Linked DNA regions of Homo sapiens: all the other regions are linked to region 4. Evidence: fine-mapped expression QTL. A gene starts in region 4. Each other region holds a variant in brackets. All regions are shown on one strand. Distances are between the middles of the regions. Region 1 overlaps CERS3 (ceramide synthase 3). Region 2 has its middle 24 kb from the start of CERS3. Region 3 overlaps LINS1 (lines homolog 1). Region 4 holds the start of LINS1 (lines homolog 1).

Evidence for each region. PIP is the estimated chance that this variant, and not a neighbour inherited with it, causes the effect. A credible set is the group of variants that fine-mapping cannot tell apart.
Region 1: its variant is the best candidate, but not a certain one, in a credible set for the expression of LINS1 in prefrontal cortex (CommonMind, PIP 0.85).
Region 2: its variant is the best candidate, but not a certain one, in a credible set for the expression of LINS1 in CD4 T cells (CEDAR, PIP 0.73).
Region 3: its variant is the best candidate, but not a certain one, in a credible set for the expression of LINS1 in whole blood (INTERVAL, PIP 0.86).

The regions. Positions count from the first base shown.
Region 1 is chr15:100,465,511-100,469,510 of GRCh38, forward strand. CERS3 (ceramide synthase 3) reads right to left here. Exons shown (of 12, transcript NM_001378789.1): 10 at 3,868-3,974. Among named protein-coding and RNA genes, the nearest start is that of CERS3, 61 kb to the right of the region's middle. The variant T/TAG (reference allele first, on the strand shown) is at 2,338.
Region 2 is chr15:100,548,836-100,557,066 of GRCh38, forward strand. It overlaps the pseudogene PRKXP1 and the pseudogene RNU6-322P. Among named protein-coding and RNA genes, the nearest start is that of CERS3, 24 kb to the left of the region's middle. The variant G/GCACACA (reference allele first, on the strand shown) is at 4,322.
Region 3 is chr15:100,568,331-100,574,427 of GRCh38, forward strand. It overlaps LINS1 (lines homolog 1), which reads right to left. Exons shown (of 7, transcript NM_001040616.3): 5 at 5,321-5,911; 6 at 3,564-3,735; 7 at 1-1,787. The coding sequence ends at 908. Among named protein-coding and RNA genes, the nearest start is that of LINS1, 31 kb to the right of the region's middle. The variant G/A (reference allele first, on the strand shown) is at 4,553.
Region 4 is chr15:100,598,030-100,606,260 of GRCh38, forward strand. LINS1 (lines homolog 1) reads right to left here and starts at 4,155. Exons shown (of 7, transcript NM_001040616.3): 1 at 4,092-4,155. ASB7 (ankyrin repeat and SOCS box containing 7) reads left to right here and starts at 4,560. Exons shown (of 6, transcript NM_198243.3): 1 at 4,560-5,017; 2 at 5,186-5,284. RefSeq lists an enhancer at 4,073-4,412 and silencers at 4,583-4,842, 5,293-5,342.

The DNA.
Region 1 (4,000 bases), 130 kb before region 4:
ACATACTTCCTTCAGAGACCATTGAAAATTGATCTGCCAAACTTCCAATGGCTTGGTGAGGTTTTTCTCAACTTTCCAAACAATGAGAATCAGTCAACGTCAATACAGAAATATTTTTACCAGGAAAAGTTTTTGCTGTTGTTTTGAACTTTTTTTTTTTTTTTTGAGATGGAGTTTCACTCTTGTCACCCAGGCTGGAGTGCAATAGCAAAATCTTGGCTCACTGCAACCTCCACTTCCCAGTTTCAGGTGATTCTCCTGTCTCAGCCTCCCGAGTAGCTGGGATTACTGGCACTCGCCATCACACCCGGCTAATTTTTGTATTTTTAGTAGAGATGGGGTTTCACCATGTTGACCAGGCTGGTCTCGAACTCCTGACCTCAGGTGATCCTCCTGCCTTGGCCTCCCAAAGTGCTGGGATTACAGGCGTGAGCTACCGTGCCTGGCCTGTTTCGTTTTATTTTACAGTCAAGTCTGTTCATATTGGTTTATTTGCAACCCAACTCCTTGAAGACAGCAAATAGGAGTACTGGCTGCCCTCTCCAATGGGCAAGTGAATTCAGTATAAAGATCAAGAAAATGCCAAACACATGTAACTCAATTCTCCTTGAAAACCAGAAATGCTGGCATGAGAATGAGTTCTTAAATGTAGGGTTTTTAAAGACAACAGTGTGGGAAAATAGCGCACTACCCCGACAATCACTGAGCACCACTGTGTTGCTCAATTGTTTATGGGTAAGTAAGCTTGCTTGTTTATTTTGAGACATCATGGGATAGTCTGAGGTGAATGTTCTCCATTGCTAAATCAAAAGCCAACCATGGCAGCAATATTGCAGAAACTTCTCAGAGAGTTCCCTGGACCTAGAGCTTCCATGGTGTGTGCTTTTTAAAAACATCCGCAAATTCTTCGAAACTGCTCCCATCAAGAAATGGAGTCTAGTTTTCCTTCCCTTGAATATGAGTCAGATTTAGTGACCTGGTTCCAATAAAAAATACAAGGTTGGAAATGACGTGATGTGACTACTGAGGCTGTTTATGAAAAAAGATGCAGCATCTCTCTAGCACTCTCTTGAAATGCTCACCCTTGAAATGCAGGTGCCATGCGATGAGGAGGCCAAGGCCAACTAGAGGGGCTGTGGGTATTCCAGCGGACAGCCCCCAGCTGAAGTCCCAGCCAATAAGCACAAGCAGCATCAGCCAGCTGATTTTCTTATCTTCTTTCCTTCTTTCCTTCCTTCCTTCCTTCCTTCCTTCCTTCCTTCCTTCCTTCCTTCCTTCCTTCCTCCCTCCCTCCCTCCCTCCCTCCCTCTCTCCCTCTCTCCCTCTCTCCCTCTCTCTTTCTCTCTTTCTTTCTTTCTTTCTTGATGGAGTCTTTCTCTGTTGCCCAGGCTGGAGTGCAGTGGCACAATCTCGGCTCACTGCAACCTCCGTCTCCCAGGTTCAAGCACTTTTCCTGCCTCAGGCTCCCGAGTGGCTGGGATTATAGGCATGTGCCACCACACCCGGCTAATTTTTTTGTATTTTTAGTAGAGATGGGGTTTCACCATGTTGGGCAGGTTGGTCTCGAACTCCTGACTTCAGGTGATCCACCTGCCTCGGCCTCCCAAAGTACCGGGATATAGGCGTGAGCCACTGCACCTAGCCTGATTTTCTATATATGACTTCAGCCATGTGTTGAGGACTCTAGACACTATGTGACTGCCCAGCCGCCATATAACTGTAACCACACAAGAGACCCTAAGTGAAAATCATCTAGCCAAGGCCAATCGACTCCTAGAACCATGAGAAATAATAATAATAATAATTAATAAATGTTGTTGTCTTAAGACAGAGGTCTGCAAACTATGGCCTGTGGGTAAAATCCGGCCTGCAACCTGGGTGTATGTTTTCGTACAGCCCATGAGCTAAGTAAGTATGGCTTGGTACATTTTTAAAGGATTATAAAACAAAATAAAATGAATAAAAACTTGCAAAAAAGATCATAGGTGGCCCTCAAAGCCTAAAATATATATTCTCTGGCCTTTTAAAGAAAAAGTTTGCCCACTGCTGTCTTAAGCCACTAGACTTTTAGATGCTGTGTTATACAGCAACAGGCAATTGGAACGTGTAGTGCCTTTGGGACATGGCGAACTGAGGGGCAAATGCTGGATTGATAGTGTCATGAAAGTCACACTGAAAAGCTATGCCCAACTGTCATCAGCAAGTCAATATTATTCTATCAATAATTGCTATCATTCTCTCTCTCTCTCTCTCTCTCTCTATATATATATACACACATATATATGTATATATATATACGTCTATATATATGTGTATATATATACGTGTATATATATA[T/TAG]ATATAGATAGATAGATAGATAGATAGATAGATATAGATATAGATATAGATATATTTAAAGACAGGGTCTCACTATGTTGCCCAGGCTGATCTAGAACTCCTGGGCTTAAGTGACCCCCCCGCCAACCTCAGGCTCCTGAGTAGCTGGGACTATAGGCATGCACCACCATGCCCAGCCATTACTAAAATTTCACAAACACACTTGCTCAGTCAAAGTAAAAGTGATGGTAATGATTTATCAACCAAGGAAAATATCTGAGACATTTATCTTAGATTTGATTCTAGTTGAACTTCAAATTCTGAGATACTCATTAATATGTTTAATTATAGTAGGTAGTATTTACTGATTCTTTACTGAGTACCAGACATTGTTCCAAACTATATAAACTAGTTAAGCCTCATGCCAACCCTTATTTCCATTTTACATATGAGAAAACTGAGGCACAGAGAGGTGGTATAACCTGTTCAAGATCACAAAGGTCGTAAGTGTGGAGTCAGGATTTAAATCCAGGATGGACTCTCACATGTAGCAACTTAACCACTACACTCTGTTGTTCCTCTCCAGAAAATGCCGAATACACATGGTCTAAAGAATGCAGCTGGCTTCCAGGAAAGGGCATTGACCTCTCTGGCTGGATTTCCCTGGATGCCAGCCAAGGGTGCTGTCTATACACTTAAGAATGAGGCCTGGAACTTGAGTCTCCATCCATTTCCCCTGCATCTAGGCTCTTCAACAGCACTAAGTCTTCTGTTTGGAGGATCCCAAGTTCCCAGACTAGCCCCAAATTATGGTTGGTTAAAAGCTGTTCCTTCCAAACCATCTAAGTCTTCCCCACATGTTACTCTGGTTTCTGTCAATCAACACATGGAACATTATGCTTCCCAAGGAAATGATTGTCATGGGAGATGTAATATATGCTTTTCATTGCTGGTCTGTGGCTAAACAAAATCAACAGACTGATCGAGAGCCAATCATATCGAAAGGATACTCAAACCATAATTAGAACCAGTGGTCATAGAGAATGAAATAAACAAGTATCAGTTTTCCTTATCTGGGAAGTGGAAGTGATAATACTCATCCTTATGAGTTATTGTGTAGACTAGAGCCAAGATATGGGAAGGACCTAATCCAGTGTCTGGCATTCAAGTAATGGCTATAATTATTGTAACACAGAACATACCTCTCTTTTAGAGAACTGGTGATTGGACAGTGACTTTTCATTGAGTGACTAGAAAAGCTGTTAATCACAAAGAAAGGTCTACATCCATGAAACAAGACAGAGTAAGAGCTGCTGCTTGCCCGTCAGGTCACACATTTTCCATCTCCCGTTGTAATAAGCCTTTTCCACACCACAGAGTGTTGTTTTAATTATTTATAAAAATGGCTCCATCACATTCTTTTCTCCAACTGCACTTGACACAAATAACTGGAGACCCACGTATGGAAAGGGCAATGCCCTGAGGGTAACCATGCACTGAGGCCACCTCTGCACACTGACCAAAGGCAGGGCACATCACCGGTCTACTCACCAGAAAGGAAAAACAATGAGGCGGCTGATGAAAAATATGGTGGAGAAGATGAAAAACAGGGTGTTACAGGTCTGCGTCCATCCAGCATAAGAAAACATCTTAGCAGACTGCAAAAAAGAAAGAAACTGCAGAT
Region 2 (8,231 bases), 49 kb before region 4:
AAGGCTGCAAGGACTGTGTAGACCTGATGCAAAGTTAACTGGCTGCAAAAATACAACCCAAGCCAGTGCTGTCTTGCACCCTGTTCACTCAGTAGCTGGAGCAATGAATGATTGTGACATTCTGGTGTGATATTTGTGCAGCCTGAGGTACACCCTGGCTACAGAGTTGAGCCTTGGGGTCTTTAACAGTATTAAGCCATGGTTTCACAGTTACAGTGGTCCAAAGAACTAGAGGCCATGTAGGTCAAACACAGAAATGGCGAACACATCCCAAACCACTCAACTGTTTAGTTCCACTGGTGATTTTTTTTAACGGGTAGTGATTTCAAATGATTTGGTGGGTGGTTTTTTGTTTTGTTTTGTTTTTTCTTTTTCTTCAGAGCAAACAAATGATTTGGTCTTTAAGTATGGAGAGAAAAAAACAAAACGCTGAACGAGAAATTCACTAACAAGTGACTGTGCAGTTGTTTGAGGGCATGGAGAGGGAATGGGGTTGACAGCATTTTGAGGGGATGAAGTGCACGATCTTACCCCACTGCTGGGGGGTTTCTGATTCTTATTCTATCATGCTGACAGCAAATATAATTTGCCCATCGCTGGCTATAGATATGTTTAGGCTAAGCAGGATTTAGACTTCTGTTGGGAAGGAATTAGAAGAATTCAGTAGAGACAGTGTATACTATTTGGTTGTGACTTTATTTTCTTCCTGGTTTTATCAATGCCTATGAAAGCAGGCTGGTGGCTTTTCCCTTGAGAAAAACAAGACTTGCCCCACTATACTTCCTATTGTGGCATATCCATTTCCTAAAGATATTATCTTATAGTGTTCCAATTTAAGAAAATACTTCCAACTCATAAAATTACATGAAACAAAGTACATTTGTAATTTTTTTCTGATACAAATTTTGTGATTATCGTGATGAATTTTCCTCCACATTTAGCACAGTGATTGTTTCACGTGATCATCTATGCGGAAATTTTGGAATGCCCACCCAGATAAACTATTTTTATTTTTATTTTTTGAGATGGAGTCTTGCCCTGTCACCCAGGCTAGAGTGCAGAGGCACAATCCTGGCTCATTGCAGCCTCCGCCTCCCGAATCCAAGCGATTCTCCTGCCTCAGCCTCCTGAGCAGCTGGGGCCACAGGCACCCACCAGCATGCCTAATTTTTGTAGTTTTAGTAGAGATGGGGGTTTCGCCATGCGGGCCAGGCTGGTCTCGAACTCCCAACCGTGGGTGATCTGCCCACCTCGGCCTCCCAAAGTGCTGGGATCACAGGCGTGAGCCACCATGACGGGCCAGGTAAACTATTTTAAAATTATACATAGTGATTGTTCTATGTTTATAGCTCATTTTGATTAAATTAACCTCTACAGGACATTGGGCCATTTAAACTATGACCCCGCCATGGGGCAGTTACCAGGTAGCCTGTCTCACTTCAAATGTTGAAATGTGCATGATGGTCAAAAGTGGGTTTCACACCATCACACGTTCTTGGAAGTGCTTCTAATTTCTCATTTGTTCTGTATGGCTAGAGGCTGATTACAATGTCCGTAAAGAACAAGGTCATCAATGTGCTTTGCATATTTCATTTTCATGCATATCTGTTTGTTGCGGGAAGTCAGGGACCCCAAACGGAGGGACCGGCTGAAGCCATGGCAGAAGAACGTGGATTGTGAAGATTTCATGGACGTTTATTAGTTCCCCAAATTAATACTTTTGTAATTTCTTATGCCTGTCTTTACTGCAATCTCTAAACATAAATTGTAAAGATTTCATGGACACTTATCACTTCCCCAATCAATACTCTTGTGATTTCCTATGCCTGTCTTTAATCTCTTAATCCTGTCAGCTGACGAAGATGTATGTCACCTCAGGACCCTGTAATAATTGCATTAACTGCACAAATTGTACAGCATGTGTGTTTGAGCAGTATGAAATCTGGGTACCTTGAAAAAAGAACAGGATAACAGCAATTGTTCAGGGAATAAGAGAGATAGCCTTAAACTCTGACTGCCGGTGAGCCAGGCGGAACAGAGCCATATTTCTCTTCTTTCAAAAGCAAATGGGAGAAATATCGCTGAATTATTTTTCTCAGCAAGGAACATCCCTGAGAAAGAGAATGTGCGCCTGGGGGTGGGTCTCTGAACTGGCCCCCCTGGGCGTGGTCATCTCTTATGGTCAAGACTGCAGGGGTGAAATAGACCTCAGTCTCCCATAGCGCTCCCAGGCTTATTAGGAAGAGGAAATTCCCGCCTAATAAATTTTGGTCAGACCGGTTGATCTCAAAAACCCTGTCTCCTGATAAGATGTTATCAATGACAATGGTGCCCGAAACTTCATTAGCAATTTTAATTTCGCCTCGGTCCTGTGGTCCTGTGATCTCACCCTGCCTCCACTTGCCTTGTGATATTCTATTACCTTCTGAAGTACTTGATGTCTGTGACCCACACCTATTCGCACACTCCCTCCCCTTTTGAAAATCCCTAATAAAAACTTGCTGGTTTTTGTGGCTTGTGGGGCATCACGGAACCTACCGACATGTGATGTCTCCCCCGGACGCTCAGCTTTAAAATTTCTCTCTTTTGTACTCTGTCCCTTTATTTCTCAAGCTGGCCGATGCTTAAGGAAAACAGAAAAGAACCTACGTGAATATCGGGGCAGGTTCCCCAGTATCTGTTCACAATTAAGGCAAGGCATTTCAGGCTTTTCCTGATGCTAATTTTCATCTCAGTATGAAATCCTGGATTACAAAACAGGCAACCTAAAAATAGGCATTTTTTAGTACATGGACTTATGGGTCTATGTACTTTTTAAAGTGTGCTCAAGAATAGTGTTTCATTTATGGTTTTATTAATAATTTTTAAAGCAGAATTTTCAACAATATTATTACTATGATTTATTTTTATAGTCAGCAAACACGAGACTTCATGCTCTTCCTTCTAGCTGCACATCTCGGTGCACAGTGTAACCTTTTTTAAAAAAAAATATGGAATGCGGCATGAATCTGGATCTTCCTTGCACAGGGGGCCATGCTAATCTCCTCTGTGTCATTCTAATTTTAGTATACCTGCCGCTGAAGTCAGCACCAGTTTCACCTTTTCACATTCACGGTAAAAATTATGGGAAACTGCATGTGAAATGTTTAGAAAATGATGGCCCTCAACTGTTAATCCCAACAGGATGGTGACTGAGACACACAGGCTGAAAATACAGCTGTCTAAAACATTTCCACATTTCATCATCTGAACATCATTTTCCACTAAGTTATTAATTGTAAAGACTTTATTCTACTGAACCTACTAATTATTCTCACCTGCTGAGTTGACCACCACGTGAAGAAAAGGTCATTAATGAAAAAGGGTGGCTATGTTCTGTTTCTGCAGTTTCACTGTGTTTTAACATTTTTTTCCTTTTATAGAGATGGGGTCTTGCTATGCTGCCCAGGCTGGTCTCAAACTCCTAGGCTCAAGCAATCCTCCTGCCTTGGCTTCCCCAAATCCTAGGATTACAGGAGTGAGCCACTGCACCCAGCTTCATGGTCTTTTAAAGCCTTAAGGTGGATGTGTCTTCATTCCACCTTTCATTCCACCTTCAAAAGCACAAAGCCATTGCCTTTTTTTTTTTTTTAATTTAGACAGGGTCTCACTCTGTCACCCAGGCTGGAGTGCAGTGGTGTGATCTCGGATCACTGCGGCCTGGACCTCCCCGGGCTCAAGTGATCCTCTCATTTCAGCCTCCCGAGTAGCTGAGACTATAGGCAAGCGCCACCATGCCCGGCTAATTTTTTTGTATTTTGTAGAGAGATGACATCTCACCATGTTTCCCAGACTGGTCTCCAACTCCTGGGCTCAAGCAATCCACCCACCTCAGCCTCCTGAAGTGCTGGGACTACAGGAACAAGCCACTGCGCCCAGCTTAGATGAAATTTTTGAATGTGACACAGGTTTTTTAAATACAGTATATTCCTCCAACAACTTCAATGTCATTGTAGATTCTTGGAATAAATTCACTCCCATATCTTCTTCTCTTTGTTTCTTCTTTTAAAGTCTCAAGTTACCAGGTAGGAAGCACTAAAGATACTGAAGATGGACCTCCCCATGATGTTTTCTTCACCCAAACTAAAAAATGCATGTGAGATGATTTTTTTAAATCCATGCAACAGACCCTTCAGATGTTGTCCCCAAGAGAAGAGATTTTTGAAAAAACAAATTGAAAAATAAAAATTATAGGCTCTGTGAAGTATGAACATTTACATCATTGCACAATTTCTGTGGATCTGCCATAATGACTTCTATATATACACACAGGCGCGCGCAT[G/GCACACA]CACACACACACACACACACACACAATTTGTGGTTATAATTGAACAAGTCCAGTTCAAACTTATAAACTTAAGTCTATGAGAAAAACCAAGACATCACAGTAGGAACACAACACTAAAGGATAAGATAAAATCTACAAGCAAACAATTTTCAAAACCTTCCTACAGTGTGGAATTCCAGTTGCTTAAATAATGCCAGTTACATTAATTTCAACTGTGCTCTGATCTGTTTCTATACATACAGGCACAAAGACAGAAAAGTGGAAATGTCCTTATCACGTGAAGAAGACATTGCTACTGGTCTGCTCAGGAGCAGCTCTTTGTTGCAGGCAGATTCCAGCCTTCCTGCTTCTTCCAGATGTGAGCTCCTGTCCTCAGAAATTCTTGAAGATTTCTAAACCCTTCTGCGGCACGGTCGCGGCTGTGTCCCAGTCATTCTCGGGGTAAGTTCCGAAGTTGGAGGTGTCGCCTTCGCGGGCTATCTTGGGCACGATGGGAGGCTTCAGTTTTCTCTGAGGAACAGCTTCCCAGTCCACAGAGCGGAACCACCGATGGCGTTTCACATCATTCGCCCCGTTCTTCATATTTCCTAACCACCTTGTTCTGTCAACCACGAGCAGTTTCTTAATGAGATCTTTCACATGGAAATCCAAATGTCTGGGGAAATCTATCTTGTCTGCAAGAATTTTCTGATAAATGCCAAACATGTTGTCACACACACACACACACACACACACACACACACACACACACACAAATGGAGGAAATCCCGAGAGCATCTCGAATATCAGGATGCTGAGGGCCCACCAGTCCACAGCCCTTCCGTGACCCTCGCTCTGAATGACTTCGGGGGCCAGGTACTCGGGTATTCCGCAGAGGGTCCAAGTCCTGTCTACCAGCTTCTTGGCGAACCCAAAGTCCGTGAGCTTGATGTGTCCGTCCCTATCCAGCAGGATGTTCTCCGGCTTCAAGTCCCTGTAGATGATCTCCTTAGAGTGCAGGATGGCACAGATGATCTCTGCAGAGTAGAAGAGCCCCCGGTTGCGCAGGTAGCTGAAGAGCTCACAGCCCGGAACATACTCCATGAGCCTGCAGAGGAAGCGCTAGTCATGCCCCGTCCAGCACAGCCTGATGAGAAACGGGTGGATGATTCCTTCAGGACGCAGATGAGGGACGGGTGGATGATTCCTTCCGGACGCAGATGAGGGACGGGCGGATGACTTCCTTCCGGACGCAGATGAGGGACGGGTGGATGACTTCCTTCCGGACGCAGATGAGGGACGGGTGGATGACTTCCTTCCGGACGCAGATGAGGGACGGGCGGATGACTTCCTTCCGGACGCAGATGAGGGACGGGCGGATGACTTCCTTCGGGACGCAGATGAGGGACGGGCGGATGACTTCCTTCGGGACGCAGATGAGGGACGGGCGGATGATTCCTTCCGGACGCAGATGAGGAACGGGCGGATGATTCCTTCCAGACGCAGATGAGGGACGGGCGGATGACTTCCTTCGGGACGCCGATGAGGAACGGGTGGATGATTCCTTCAGGACGCAGATGAGGGACGGGTGGATGATTCCTTCAGGACGCAGATGAGGGACGGGCGGATGACTTCCTTCCAGACGCAGATGAGGGACGGGTGGATGATTCCTTCAGGACGCAGATGAGGGACGGGTGGATGATTCCTTCCAGACGCAGATGAGGGACGGGTGGATGACTTCCTTCAGGACGCAGATGAGGAACGGGTGGATGATTCCTTCAGGACGCAGATGAGGGACGGGCGGATGACTTCCTTCCAGACGCAGATGAGGAACGGGCGGATGACTTCCTTCAGGACGCAGATGAGGGACGGGCGGATGACTTCCTTCCAGACGCAGATGAGGGATGGGTGGATGATTCCTTCAGGACGCAGATGAGGGACGGGTGGATGATTCCTTCCGGACGCAGATGAGGAACGGGCGGATGACCTCCTTCCGGACGCAGATGAGGGACGGGTGGATGATTCCTTCAGGACGCAGATGAGGGACGGGTGGATGATTCCTTCCAGACGCAGATGAGGGACGGGCAGATGACTTCCTTCCGGACGCAGATGAGGGACGGGTGGATGATTCCTTCCAGACGCAGATGAGGAACGGGCGGATGACCTCCTTCCGGACGCAGATGAGGGACGGGCGGATGATTCCTTCAGGACGCAGATGAGGGACGGGCGGATGACTTCCTTCCAGACGCAGATGAGGGACGGGCGGATGACTTCCTTCGGGACGCCGATGAGGAACGGGTGGATGATTCCTTCAGGACGCAGATGAGGGACGGGCGGATGACCTCCTTCCGGACGCAGATGAGGGACGGGCGGATGACTTCCTTCCAGACGCAGATGAGGGACGGGCGGATGACTTCCTTCCAGACGCAGATGAGGGACGGGTGGATGATTCCTTCAGGACGCAGATGAGGGACGGGTGGATGACTTCCTTCCAGACGCAGATGAGGGACGGGTGGATGATTCCTTCCAGACGCAGATGAGGGACGGGCGGATGACTTCCTTCAGGACGCAGATGAGGGACGGGCGGATGACTTCCTTCCGGACGCAGATGAGGGACGGGCGGATGACTTCCTTCCAGACGCAGATGAGGGACGGGCGGATGACTTCCTTCGGGACGCCGATGAGGAACGGGTGGATGATTCCTTCAGGATGCCGATGAGGGACGGGCGGATGACTTCCTTCCAGACGCAGATGAGGGACGGGCGGATGACTTCCTTCGGGACGCCGATGAGGAACGGGTGGATGATTCCTTCAGGACGCAGATGAGGGACGGGCGGATGACTTCCTTCCAGACGCAGATGAGGGAGGGGTGGATGATTCCTTCAGGACGCAGATGAGGGACGGGCGGATGACTTCGTTCCAGACGCAGATGAGGGACGGGCGGATGATTCCTTCCGGACGCAGATGAGGGACGGGCGGATGACTTCCTTCCAGACGCAGATGAGGAACGGGCGGATGACTTCCTTCAGGACGCAGATGAGGGACGGGTGGATGACTTCCTTCCGGACGCAGATGAGGGACGGGTGGATGACTTCCTTCTGGACGCAGATGAGGGACGGGTGGATGATTCCTTCTGGACGCAGATGAGGAACGGGCGGATGACCTCCTTCCGGACGCAGATGAGGGAGGGGTGGATGATTCCTTCCGGACGCAGATGAGGGACGGGTGGATGATTCCTTCAGGACGCAGATGAGGGACGGGCGGATGACTTCCTTCCAGACGCAGATGAGGAACGGGCGGATGACTTCCTTCAGGACGCAGATGAGGGACGGGCGGATGACTTCCTTCCGGACGCAGATGAGGGACGGGTGGATGACTTCCTTCGGACGCAGATGAGGAACGGGCGGATGATTTCCTTCCAGACGCAGATGAGGAACGGGCGGATGACCTCCTTCAGGACGCAGATGAGGAACGGGCGGATGACCTCCTTCCGGACGCAGATGAGGGACGGGCGGATGACTTCCTTCGGACGCAGATGAGGGACGGGTGGATGATTCCTTCCAGACGCAGATGAGGAACGGGCGGATGACCTCCTTCCGGACGCAGATGAGGGACGGGTGGATGACTTCCTTCCGGACGCAGATGAGGGACGGGCGGATGACTTCCTTCCAGACGCAGATGAGGGACGGGTGGATGACTTCCTTCCAGACGCAGATGAGGGACGGGCGGATGATTCCTTCAGGACGCAGATGAGGGACGGGTGGATGACTTCCTTCCAGACGCAGATGAGGAACGGGCGGATGACTTCCTTCGGGACGCCGATGAGGAACGGGTGGATGATTCCTTCAGGACGCAGATGAGGAACGGGCGAATGACTTCCTTCGGGACGCCGATGAGGAACGGGTGGATGATTCCTTCAGGACGCAGATGA
Region 3 (6,097 bases), 31 kb before region 4:
TGGCCATATCTGGGATTAGGGTCTTTGCAGCTGTCATCAAGTTGAGATCATACTGGATGAGGGTAGGTCCTAGTCCAATGACCGATGTCCTTGTAGGAGGGAAACTGGACACAGACACAGGAAAATGCCATGTGAGGCAGGAACTGGAGTGACGCCACTACAAGACAAGGGACACCATGGCTGGCTGGCTGCCACCAGAAGCCAGAAAGGGGCAGGGTGGGATTCTTCTCCAGACCCTGAGGGCATTGCCCTGCTGAAGCCTGAGTTTGGATTCTGGCCTCCAAAACTATGAGGATAATTCCAGGTGTCTGAAGCTGCGGCACACGTGGCAAGTTGTTACGGCAGCCCTAGCTGAGGAACGCAATCACCACCCCCGATTTTGTGTCACTTAGAACTGCCATAAATCTCCAGTGGTATATAGCTATAATGAGTGACTTGTCACTTGATGTCTCTTTTTCAGTCACTAGGTTGCTTCCAATAAGGCAAAAAGTAAGAACTTGTCTAGAAAACCCAGCCGGGCACAGTGGCTCATGCCTGTAATCCCAGCACTTCGGGAGGGCGGACAGGCGGATCACTTGAGGTCAGGAGTTTGAGACCAGCCTGGCAACATGGTGAAACCCCCGTCTCTACTAAAAATACAAAAATTAGCTGGGCGTGGTGGCGGGCACCTGTAATTCCAGCTACTCGGGAGACTGAGGCAGGAGAATTGCTTGAACCCAGGAGGTGGAGGTTGCAGTGAGTCGAGTCACGCCACTGCACTCCGGCCTGAGCGACAGAATGAGATTCTGTCTCAAAAAAAAAAAAAAAAAAGAAAACCCTTTTATGGTGATGATTTTATACTATTACCTCATTGAGACATAATTTATATTAAGGAAAAACAATACCTGGAAAATAAAATGTCAATGTTTTACAAAGTGTTCATAGTTTTATTACTTATCACCTCTATGTATTTTAACAACTTCAAAAGTGCAGTTGGATTATATGGGAAAAGATTTTTCTTTTGCAAACGGCAGATGGCATCTTGTAGTTCCTGGAAGCATTTTACTATTCTGTAAAATATTCCCACTTCAGAGACGACATCATTTGGGGCTACTTCACAATCAAAGGAGAAGGCAGTATCAAATTCTTTCAGAACCAGAGGCCTTGATGGAGGCTCAAGGCTAAATTCTTTTTTATCCCTGCTTGTCCCAGCTGCATCCTGAATCTCCTTAGTTGCTTGCTGGTGTAAAGATGTCTGTTTACTGTTAGCTAAACACTGCTCTGTGGATTCCACGTCAGAATCGTCAGAGCTGTCGTAATCTACCAGACTTTGAGAGGCCCGGGGGGAAGACAGACTAGAAGCACACATGGTGTGAGCCCCCTTGGACATCACAGCTTTCAGTGGTTCAGAGGGAGCATCGGAAGCCCAGGAGTGCCGAGCACACACATCTCTGTGACTATGAGGAGCAGTCAAACGATGGGGTATTGTTTGGTTGGAGCTTTGGTCTTGGACAAGTGAGGGGACACAGCCACAAATACTTATGTCATATTTAGATTCAGTTGCATCAAAGTTATTGCAAATGGTGAAAAAATTATCCCAGTCCTTTTGCAGTAATTTTAAATATCTAACAAAATATTCAAGAAAACAGGTTTCTGATGAAATCAAAAAGTCAAGAAGAACTGTGGAATCAAATCCTATATTTTTCAAGAAGAACAAGAAAATACAGTGAGGATTATAGCCATTTTCATGTGTGTGATGGTCCCACATTTCTTTTCCCTGAGTCAAGCTTTCAGTGGCTTCACATCCTCTGAAAATGAAGATAATGGAGAATGCAGATTAATGACCTTACAAAAATAAACAGTTTTACCAGATATAATTCACATACCATAAATTAACCTATTAGATTACTTTTAAATCTATGCATCACTTCTTAAAAGAAAAAATTTCAAAACCCATTCCCTTCCCCATAAGCTCTAAAGAAATCTGACTCAGTAAAGCAAAATCCACTGACTTTGGCAGTTCTAGTTTTTGTCTGCCCAATAAAAGTTACCTGTTGTTCTTTCTCTCGACATCAGAACTCCTCATTCTTATAGGTAACCAATTCCATGTGGTAAGATAATTCCTAAACCTCCTTCCTTACCCTCAACAAGGGTGGGCATGTGACCCAGATTGACCAATCAGAGCACTCCATGCTCCTGGCCACAATGACTGGTTCTGACAAGGCTCTGTGACCCAAGTGGGTTAATCAGGTCTCCCCTGGGACTTTTGCTGGAGCTATGGAAGATTATAACTGTAAGGCTGAGGTACGCCTTGAACTGCCGGTGGCCATGCCTTGAGAATGAATTCAAAACTGTGAGACAGAGAAAAATTGAGAAGTGATTGATGACATGATTGATTATAGTCCCTGTACATATAGTTATACCTGACTCCAACTTGACCCTTTAGAATTCCCAGTTATGAGCCAATAAATGCTGGCTTTTGCTCAAATTAGAGTTGGTTTCTATCATTTACAACCAAAAAAATCTTAACAAATACAACTACATCTGAAAAAAACTATCTATGTTGTAAGCACATGCCTCTCTGGACACACTGAACTGGATTCAGAAAGTGAGAAATTCACACACAAAGTCAGTTTCATTCAGGGGTTTCCACTTCCTGAGGAGTAAGGAGCTAACTTTGAGTACAATTAAGATACACTCTTACAGGCGTGTGCATTTTCAGACTGAACTTGTATTTGACCATTTTGAACCTAATTCAAATCACATGCAGGAATTTTGTGTTCTTGATTAGGACCTTTTGAAAATTGGCCCCAAACACTCAAGAGTCTAAGAGCAGCCATTGCCAGCAGTGTCATAATACAAGTAAGTACTGGCGGCACAACGCTGCACCACAGATCATTAGCAAGAAATCCCTTTCTCCCAGGCCAAGAAAGAAATGGAAATAAAGCAAATATGTGAGGGTTTTAATAAAGCAGAAGCAGAAACAGTGGAAAAGGTCATCGGTTATTAGCTTCATAACCAATTATAGATATTTGCCACAAGAAGATATTAACCCAAGTACAGCTATTTTAATAAAGCAGAGACAATCAGTATAAATCATCAGTAACATAACTTAACCAATTTCAGACATTTGCCTCAAGAAGGTATCAGCCCAAATTCGACTGAAACGAAAATTCAGAACAGCTTCTTTGATTATTTCTAAGTTTGTATTCACCTTTACAAAGGCAAAGATCATCTTACTGAAGCTTAATACAAAAAAGTAAGTCTTAGGGGTGAAAAGAGGTCTTAAATGAACAACAATTAAGATTCAGAGAAGTGTACTGACTTACTGGAGACCAAATCAGAAGCCATGTTTTCAGATACCAATCTAGTTATACTACCTGAGAACTGCCCAGCCAGCCAGGTTTTCCTAGCGATACAAATGCAATCTCCTTTTCATGTAAGTCAGGGTTAAAGAAAGGAACTGCAACAGGATGTTTTCCCCCAAATGATGAAAGTAAGCAACACGCCCAGCACATTCTCAGAAATGTTTTCTGCTTTCCTGACTTGTAGGCCGTTCAATAATTACTTTAAAATACACTAACCTGGTCAGTGTTAAGTAGATGCCCAGTGATGCCTTGGCAGCCTCCAGCATGTCATCGTCTTGTTCTATGAAAACCCGAGACAGCCATTTGCACGGATTGTGTAATTGCAGAGAGGGCTGAAGATGAGGCTTTAAGAAGGTCAGTAACTCAGACATGAACCTCTGTAAGTCAACTTCAAAAAATGAAAATTTCAAAGTGTAGGCAATAGTTTATGAATGAATGAATATCTTGCCTATATATAAATTCATAGTGTCTAAAGTACCTTAAGATGCAATTATCCTAATTCACTTTCAAAAAGTCATCAGGAATCAGTTAGGAAGCATCTTTATTTGGCAAATGAGGACACTGAGGCTCAGGGAAAAAAAGTGACTCATTCCAGAGCATACATTTAAAATGTACAGCTACATCATCTATTTGCAACAACTGCCTAACAACTGTCTCTTAGAAATAAAAGTTATGTGATTTCTTGCTAAAAGCAGATAAATAAATGAGCAGACAACTAAGATCACTTCATCGGATGCCAGAGCTGTCTGTCCAAGAATGCAACCAAGCAAAAATAATTTTGTCTTCAAAATAACAGAAAAACATATTTTTTGTTTGTTTAAAGCATAGAAGTACTACTATTAAGCACAAAAATAAAAAACGTTTTAGGTAGTTTGAACTACAATTTAAAACTGAATTATATAACAGGTGCCATCTAGTGTTATAAATTAAAACTGCACAGAATTATAACTAATGTGTAGTTATTAAAAGCTAAATTATATCCAAAGCAATTCAGTGATGTCATTGCTCACAATTCAAACTTTTCACTGAATCTGTATGCTGCCTGTTTAGAGACATTTACTATTCATTTTTCTCAAGTAAAATGGAAGACTTTGAACTCCTGAGTTACTATTCTGGAAATTATATATGTAACAATTTCTTTGTCAATATAACTTCTCATATATTAGCTTTAATTCAATATCTAATTTTCAATAATCTACATTAGT[G/A]GAAACACTAATTGTATGAAGGATTAATACAAATGGGGTGGGGAAACAGAGACGAGAGGATCACTTCAGCTCAAAACGTTGAGGCTGCAGTGAGCCTGGGAGACAGAGCAAGACCCTGCCTCAAAATAAATAAACAGTAAACACAACAATAACAAAGAAATAACAACAAACAATAATAACAATAAACACATAAGTGGGAGTGAACATATTTTTCTTTAATCTCTCTGTCTTCTCCTCTCTCTCTCTCTCTCTCCCTGAAAGGATCTCCATCTGTTGCACCAGGACTGGAGTGCAGGTGTGCGATGGGTCGCGGCTCACTGTAGCCTTGATCTCCCAGGCTAGGACCTCCCAGGTTGGGACAGGAGGAATAGCATGGGCCGAAGGGGGGTCAGGGCTGCAGTGGGCCATGGTCACGCACCTGCAGTTTAGATTAAAAAAAAAAAAAGGATTAATATAAATAAAATGCTGTAAATACTTGAATATGAATTGATTTCCATCACTTACTTTGAGATGACTCAACAGCAACTTTTTTAAACCTAAATCATTCCTTATGCTTTACAAATTCATTGTAGGCACAAAAAGCTGACATGTTTCTTAAAGGTAAATCCAGTTCTTTTTTTTTTTTTTGAAAATGTAATAAGTTACAAATAGGATAACATACAGCTTAAATTACTGGAATTTAAACTAGTCCTGAGATTTGATAATTATGAATTACTGTACTTAAGTAAATAATTACACACTGCATACAAAAGGAGTTTGGAGAATTACCTTTCACTTCACTTGCTGAAGAATAATTTTGAAACTTGATTTCTAAGGATTTCATTATAACTAAGCTTGCTGCTCTAAGGATCACATGATCTGGACTAGTGATAAGTTCACATTCAGGTTGAACTTCATCACCTCCAAAAAAGGAATGTTTTTCATAAACAGACAGTGTCTTCAACAACCCCGAATTCACAGCTTGCAAAACAGCATTAGCTAAAGCCAGCATGTCCACCGCTACATGATGGTCTGGCGGCATTAAGGCAGGCACAGATCCACGACAGAGGTCTTCACCCACTTTACAGAGAAGGCACTTTTTGAGGAATATGATGACCTTCCTTTTAACAAAAGCCTGAATAGGCCAGGTAATAACTTCTAGCATGCAAGATGGTTTCAAAAATAAAATCCTCTGGCAAGTGAAATGTAACTTCAGGTGGATTCTGGAGGCGATGAGAAGCTCAAGCAAATCCAGGAAACACATCAGGATGTTTACTATTTTAGAAGTATCCCGGCAGTTTTCAAAATGCTGAGAGAATAAGGAATTGTAAAACACTTCAAAAATGGTGTCGAAATGAGTCAGGAACTGCTTTAGAATTTCTGCAATTATAAAAATAGGAATTATAAACAGGAAAAACAGTCTTCTTCAAACAATTTTACAATTCACTTTTTATAAATATCACTTTTTAAGATGAAAAAACAGATTTGGAATGTTTACCTCTAACATTAACAAATGAGGTTACACAGATTAATGGGTAAGAACCACGGTTAAAATTCATTTTATGG
Region 4 (8,231 bases):
CTTCTCCTTCCACCCACTTTCCCTTTTGTTTTAGGCTTAAATATGACTTTCTTTGGCAGGGGTAGGTCCTCCGGTGATACTGTCTTCCAGCTCTGGTGCCCTGTCTTACAGAATGTGTCACAATTATACTTTAACGATTTGTGCAATGATTTTTATGATTTAGAGTTGTCTGCTTGGTTCTTCCCTAGCTCCTAGCACAGCATTTGATACACAGTAGGTACTTATATTTGTGGAATACATTCCTGGCTGAAGATTAATTTAGTAGTGTATATGTAACAATCCTAAAATCAGTCCCAAAGTATATTTTAGTACCGTTTTGATCTCAAAAAACTTTAAAAACACCATGTAATATTTTAAGTTGTGAATTTTAAATTATAATAAAAATGTAGTATCAAAGAATTATAAACAGTAGTATCCATAGCAGGGATTAAGTTCTGAGCTCATTCAGTCTTTACCGTATGACACATCTGACAACGTACTTGACAGAAGCAACACACACTGAAGCACCATCTTAAAATGGCTGTGGTAGAATACCATAGAAGACCAAAATCCCTTAAATTACCAGGGCAAGAACTATAAGGAACTCAAAAGCCTCCAGTTAGCTTCCTTTCTTTCGGCGTTCTTTTTGCTGTGATGACCAAGGTCTGAAATACAATTTCTCTACCCAGCCCCATCGCCTTTTCTGCCAGGTACAGCTGAACTAAGTTGGGCTAACAAGGCAAATGATGGGCTCCAAACTGTGCTGCATCTGTCTTTATGGTGGCCCTCTTTATTACACCAAGATCCCCAGACACAACCTGCTGGCCCAGAACACTGCCTGCTGCCAACTAGAGCATAACCTGCTCATTCTCTCCACCACCAAGTGCTTTATGGGCCAGGACACAGCCTCCTGGGCAGTGGTCCTTGACCTTGGAATCTGACCTTGACACTGACATCACTGGAACATTAGGAAAAACCCATGAGCCTTGGACTCCCTAGAGACCAGCTAAATCAGAATTGCTGCAGTGGTGCTGGGGCATTTTTCCAATGACAAAGTCTCTTTCTACTCAAGAAATAAACTCAATTCTGATTGAGTCAGGGTTTCATGAATCAAGCTTCATGAATACTTATCCCAAATTATTTCACTTATATGTTGTAAGATGTTCCCATTTTTGTGAGTTTTATATTATTAACTAAGTTAATGGGAAATGAAGTGTATCTGTTAAAACCTAATCAATATTAACTTGTTATAAATATTCCGCAATCTAAACTGCTTTTACATCATTGAAAAGTTATAAAAATTAGCAAATCTGATAGCACCAATTCAATAAAGCAATTTAAAATTACCTAGTAGCACATTCTGTGAAACTTTGACAATATGATGTTACTTGGCTATGATATAATCATGTACTTCAATCATTTGAAAATGGTTGTTTAACTCAAAGGCAGGATTTTTAATGAAAAACAAATGGCCAGAAATACAAAGAACTAGGAATTAGGAGACAACTCTGTTTCTAGGCTCTTCACCAACAAGTTCTTAGGCCCCCATCTCTCTACTTAACTATCATTTAGCAAATACACCATATGAATTGCATGGGTGCCGAGTCTGCTATAAGAATGAATATGTTCTCCACAACAATTTACATATTTATTCATTTCTCTCTCCCTCTTTTTCCTTCTTTTTGGGAGTTCAAAACTTCTTGACTCTATAATTAGTAAATGTTATAAAACTGAACTTGTACATTATATTTGAACTGTTAAAAAGCAAAATTTGAGGCTGGGTGCAGTGGCTCACACCTGTAATCCCAGCACTCTGGGAGGCCGAGGCGGGTGGATCACCTGAGGTCAGAGGTTCGAGACCAGCCTGGCCAACGTGGTAAAACCCCATCTCCACTAAAAATACAAAAATTAGCTGGGTGTGGTGGAGTGTGTCTGTAGTCCCAGGTACTCAGGAGGCTGGGACAGGAGAACTGCTTGAACCTGGGAGGCGGAGGTTGCAGTGAGCCAAGCTCGCACCACTGTACTCCAGCCTGGGCGACAGAGGGAGACTCCATCTCAAAAACAAAAACAAACAAAATTTGAACAAATTTAAAGATGTAAATGGCTTTTATTAGCAATTTATGAATCTGGCAGCATCTCAACTAAAAATTTAGAAACGGTGTTCTGATTAGCTGAGCAGAGGTGGGCTGAAAACGGTTGAAGAAGCAAAAAGAGAATAAAAGACAGATTGGTCATTTCAAAGTTAAACTTTCCTCACAGAGACCAAATGGAGGAGAGACTTCTTTATCATGCTGGCTCAGGTAAATCAGGCCTCCTTGACTCCTTGCTGTGTATCTTCTGGATTTTTTGACAACTGGCCCATTTCTAAGTTGTTTGATTATGTGACACCTAGCACCAGCAACTCCATTCTGATTTGGCCTGGTCTGTTGGGCCTAGTGCAGGGGTTTAATCTAAAACAATGGCTTCCTATACATTTCATTTAACAATACTAATAAAATACCGCTTTTATTTTATTTGTTTACATTGGAGTCCTGCTGTTAAGCAAAAAAAAAAAAAAAAAAAACAGGGAGAAATCATGGTAGAATCGAAAGACCGAAAGCTACTAAAAATTGATAGCATTTAATAGTCCTGAATAAGTTGTTTCTAATTATAATTCAGCTACTAATTTCAAGAAGAAATGGAAATTTAGAAAGTTGAAATTATGAAATATGATTGCTGGGAAGTATAATGGGACAAAAATTAAAAAGCTGAATCTATCTTCACTGCCACTACTGCACTTCTACTCTGGACAACTGCAACCGATCCCTTCCAAAGTGGTTGTATCCAGGCCCACCCTACACCCACTTCCTTCTGAAAAACCAATCCACTTTCCTTAGGATACAGTCCAAACTCCTAAACAAGGCTTACCAAGGCCCTTCAAGATCTGACTCTCGGCGTCTTCTCATCTCTATGCCCCACTCCCCAGTCTCATTACCAGTCATTTTCCTACCACTCTGCTTCAGCTACCCTAGCCTTCTTTCTGGCAGTTCCTGTAAACAGCAAAGCATATTCTAGCATCAGAGGCTTTGCATTTCTAATTCTCTCTGCTGGCAAAATTCTCTCCCTAGATCTTGGCATGGCTGGCTCTTTGTCATTCAGATCCCTGCTCAAATGTCACTTCCTCAGAGACCTTTCCTATCTGTCTTAGTCCGTTTCCTGTTGCTTATAAAATAATTCCTAAAACTCGGTAATTTATAAAGAAAAGTAATTTATTGTCTAGTTTTGGAGGCTGGGAAGTCTAAGACTGACGGACCACGAGACAGCACCGCAAAGTATCACGTGGCCAGGGGGCTGAGCAGGCTCACGAGTTGTCAAGTCTCTCCTTAAAAAGCCACCAGTTCTACCTCCGTGATAACCCATTAATCCATGAATAGATCAATCCACTCGTGAAGACAGAACCCTCACGGTCCAACCACCTCTTAAAGACTCTACCTCTCAGTACTGCCACATTGGGGATTAAATTTCAACATGAGTTTTGAAGGGGACAGATATTCACACCATAGCACTACCTATCTAATACAGCCCATCACGTCCTGGTCAAAATCGATTCCACCATTCTGCTTGATTTTCCTCATATAACCCATCCCTATCTGATAATTTTGTGTTTGTTTCCCCGAAATCACTATCTTGTTCACTGTTGTCTCCCCAGGGACTAGAACAGTGGCCAGTAAACACTTGCTAATGAATAAAGTGCTTAACAAACGTGTCTTGATCAGTCTATCTCGCGTTTTCCCCACGACCCCTCTCCATTCATTCACAGGAACCCGCCAACGTTGCTATCCTTTCAGGAAGGTCCTTGGATCGTCATCGCTATCCCAAAGAGAGTCCGTTCTCCCACTTCAGGCGAGGCATTGCCAGCCTGGAAGCTAACGGGGTCTCAAGGACCGACAGCCGCGCCAAGACCGGGCACTTGCGTCTGACAAGCGCTGAACAGGGGCGGAGAAACAAGGCACCCCTCTACTCGCTTCCTGGAGCCTGCCGCCCTCCCAACCTTAAGCCCTGAACCAGGCTCTCATTTGGCCGCACTCGTGCCTCCCCTGCTGCCAGCACGGCGGCCGGTCCCGGTTACCTGCCTGGGATCTGGCTCAGGCGAACTCTCTTCACACCGCCATTTGAGGGAACACAAATGCCCGCTCTGGGCCACCGTAGTTCACAGAAAGTACAAGCTGGCACCTCCTCCCGCATGCGCAGAGACCGCCTTCGGCGAATAGTGTCTCTTAGCAACGGCTTTGAGTCCCTCCGCCAGGGGCGGAGCCTCGGAAGCCACCACGGGGAAGCTGTAAGGGGAAGTGAGTGAGACCAATCGGAGACGAATCTCTGCCCCGTTCGGCACGCCTCCCTTAACTGTCGCGAATGCAAAGGCAACTTTACGGCAGGCAGAGGGTGGGGGCTGCCGGGGGTAAGGAGGAGAGAAGGAAGCAACCAACCAACCAAGTCGTCCCTACTCCCTCCACCCCCACCCATCCCGGACCTGGTTTACGGCTCCAGGCTCAGGCTCCACTGCGGGCGCTGATTGGTTGTTGAAGGCTTGGTCCCATCCCAGTGACCCCAAAGTGCTGAAGGGAGGGGGCGGGGGTGGCCCAGTGCAAAGTGCATCCCGAAAGCCCCCTGTCCGGAGACCCCACGGCTGGCACTTCGGGCCCCGTATGACCTGGGACCTCGCCGTCCCGAGACCTCCTGGGTCCCTCCGTAGCTGGAAGCCTCCGGCCCGGAGCGCGGCAGCCCCCTGCTCCGAGCCCTGGACCGGGACTGCCCCCCCACCCGAGCCAGGACTTCCTCCCTGCCTCCCTGCACCTCTGCCCCAAGGCTGCCCGGCGGCCGGGATCGCCACCTCCTGCCTTCTCGGCTGTTCGGATGTTCGCCGGGCTGGGGCCGTGAGGCACCGAGGAGGATCAGGAACACCAGGGTCCGGCCCTGCCTGGGGTATTTCTTCAATGGAGAAGTTGGTGAGTGTAGAGGAGGCTGAAAGGAGGAAGAGAAGCAGCAGCTGAGGAGACAGGTAAAGTCCTTTACTTCCCCCGAGGGGAAGAGTGCTGGCTGGGAGGGTAGGAGGGAGGAAAATCTCTGCTTTTTCTTGCCTGCCCTTGCCACTCTCCAGCCCCTTTCCTGAGCTCCCCCCTCCCCACCTCTGAGACACTACACCACTCACTGGTTTCTGTTTTTCTAGGTTTGAGCTGGCTGAAGAAGACGCGAAAGCAGGAAGAGGTCTGCCCACCTATCAGAGAAGCAGAAGGCACAGTGCCTCTGACCAGCATCGTCTGTAAAGGTAATGAGCCAGCCCTCCCCTCCCCCGTTGTTTATTCCTGGCCCCTACCTCATTAAGCAGTGGTTTATTTTCAGGGTGGTTGCCTGGGAATGCAACCTTTCCTACCCCCCCCACCCCCACCCCCAGTTTCCCAGGAAAAACAAAAACATTACCCGTGCCTGATACTTAACATTTTATAACTTCTCTACCCAGGACAGTATTTTCCCACTTTCTTTCTGTACAGTGTGTTTCTGTGTTTTTCATTATCTTTTGGTACACTGTGCCATTTACTCTGCTCTGAGGCTTTGAGACCTTTTTGTAGCTACCCTCCCTTCCTTACTCTCATAGGAATTCCTCAATTCCTTGTTAATTGCTTGTTAATTCTGAATGACTTTCCTTTTTAATTAAACCACAATTTACTGTTTTCCCCCTTACTCTTTCCTATCACCTTTCTTCTACCTGCATCAGAAAAATCTTTTGAGTTATCTAACTGACAACGATTTGGTAGAGAAAGGTAAATTATTGGCCTGAGATTTATGAGTTTCAGAAAATAGTTTGATTTTATTTCCTACTAGAAAGCCAACCTGTGTACCTTAAGAGTGTGAATGGTATGAAGACAACATTATTACCCTGAAGCACTTAGGCATAATTAACTCTTTGGGCTTTCTGTGTGTTTGTGTGTGACAAATGTGGATGGGCTTTGAAACTTATAAAGATACAATGTTTCTTACACCTCAGATTTTCTAGGAGAACTTTTAAAAATTTGCACAATATCTTATTAATCGTTTGACTCAGGAATTTAAAAACAAAGGAACCTTTTGGTGTGTTTACATATCTGGGTCTTAATTTTAGCACTCTATAAAAAAGATTTCTCATTTTAAAACTTTTACGTAGAGTTTGCTGGATTGAAATTTAAGCATCTAATTCATGTGATCACATTTCTGCTGCCATATTTTGTTGCTGCTTCTGAAAATGCTCTGAAAGTAAACTTAGGACATTAGTGTAATTCCTAAAGGGGGGATATAAGCATGGAAATTATACAAGGTTTAATTCCAAAATTAGCCAAATGGATGACTTTTTTAACATCCAGTAGCAAAAGTATAAAGTGACTTGTTAATCTGAGTTATTTTAATATCCCAAATTGTTTAGGGAATTTTTGTTACAAGGAAGTGCTTAAAATAGCAGAAGTTAATATTTTTGATTTCCTATGTTCCACTGGACTTTCTGCCCTCCACAAAAAGAAATTAGTATCTTTACTGATTCTGTTAATTCTTAAGACATAGCTAAAGAGATAAAGACATAGCTTTTAAGGGGATCTGAGGTATGCATATTCTTGAGACATGGAACTGCATGCCAAAAGAAGAGATTCTAGGGAATAGGATTTAGAATCAGTATCTACCAATGACTGTTCCCTGTTGAAAACTTAGGGCAGCTTTTGTATGTATATGTAGGGAATCAGGAGTACTAGACTACATCATTTCAGTAAAAGCTACCCGGAAATCTTTAAAGGCTAATTTTTATTATGTAAGTATGGAAGTTGTCAGGGAGATGGCCTAATGATTACTTCAGAACTTTTAAAAAATGCTAAAATATTTGAAGTATGTTCTAAAGATCAAAATGAAGTACTGTGTTTTGTATTCAAGCCTCTCAGTTAAATATTTTTTCAGCTTTACATGTAACTCTAGGACGCTTTCATTTCTAAAGAGTAGTTTCACCTGAGATGGTAAAGGGAAGGAGTCTGTGGCTAGTCCAGCACATAAGGTAAGAGAGGATAAGTCTTTACTCTGGCTCTCAGCCAGTTCATTCTCATTGCTTAAATCGTATTTCATGGATCATCTCATTTTTTAATAGTTTTTCTAAGATTAGGGAATATGTGTAAATTGTCAACATCTGTCATGTTTCTAATATCAGAATGACTGAGAGTATTTGGTCTAGATTATACCAGGCATTTAGAATATTTAATTTGGGTATTTATTTACCAACATGGCTAGTTAGGTAGCTTACATTTTTTAACCTGGCAGTTAGCTTTGTATTAATTCTATTGCCAATCATGTGGCTTAAAAAAAATCCAATTTATTTCGTCACCAAATATAGATTTATAATCACGTAGGGAGAATAATTGATTTTAATTGAAGATATGCAATGATGCATCTTTAGTATACTGTGGCCAGTACTTACATTCTTTACACATAAAGTGATGTCATTTACAATTAGTTAATACTATGACACATACAGTATCTCTTTAATTTGTTCACGTTTAACTTTGGTGACATAGAGATACACACCATCCCTAAAAAGTCTAAAGCCAGATATGATTTATATGGGCATATCTGTTACCTGACTTTCAGCCTTCCACATCATAATCCCCTGAATGCCCTCCCTACGTAGGATGATTGTCTCCTTTCTTGCAAACTTTCTAGGAATTGACACATGAGGCTACAAAGATGGTGTTGGCAGACCTAGGTTAATAAGATAATATTGACAGGACCTCATCATTATAATACTTGTGATTTAAGCTTTGAGTTGGGTCTGGATAAGTCCAAAATTTCTTCTGTTGCTTCATCCACACTTCATGAAAATTATTGGTTTCTCTGCTGGAATTTATGTGGGTCATGGATAAGTTGTGCATGGTAATAAATCCTTATGTTATATGGAGGCCCAGTAATTTGGAGGAAATACTAATACCTTTATTTGTTTTGGATCATAACCACTATGCTATACTTTGTTGAGTGACACTAAAATAACACTTATACCTTATTTTGGGTTCCAGGCTCCTGATCATATCAGTAGAGCTTGTGAACAGGCATCTCAGCCATGTTCTCCGTTTTGGTACGGCCGTGTAGTGTTTTTCCATCCATCTTCCCTCTTAGATCTTGTGAATGTGAACCATTGAAGGATTGTTTTTTTTTTCTCAGACCCAATGTCGTCGGAGTTGCTGATTGCATTTATTTTCTTACCAGCATGTATT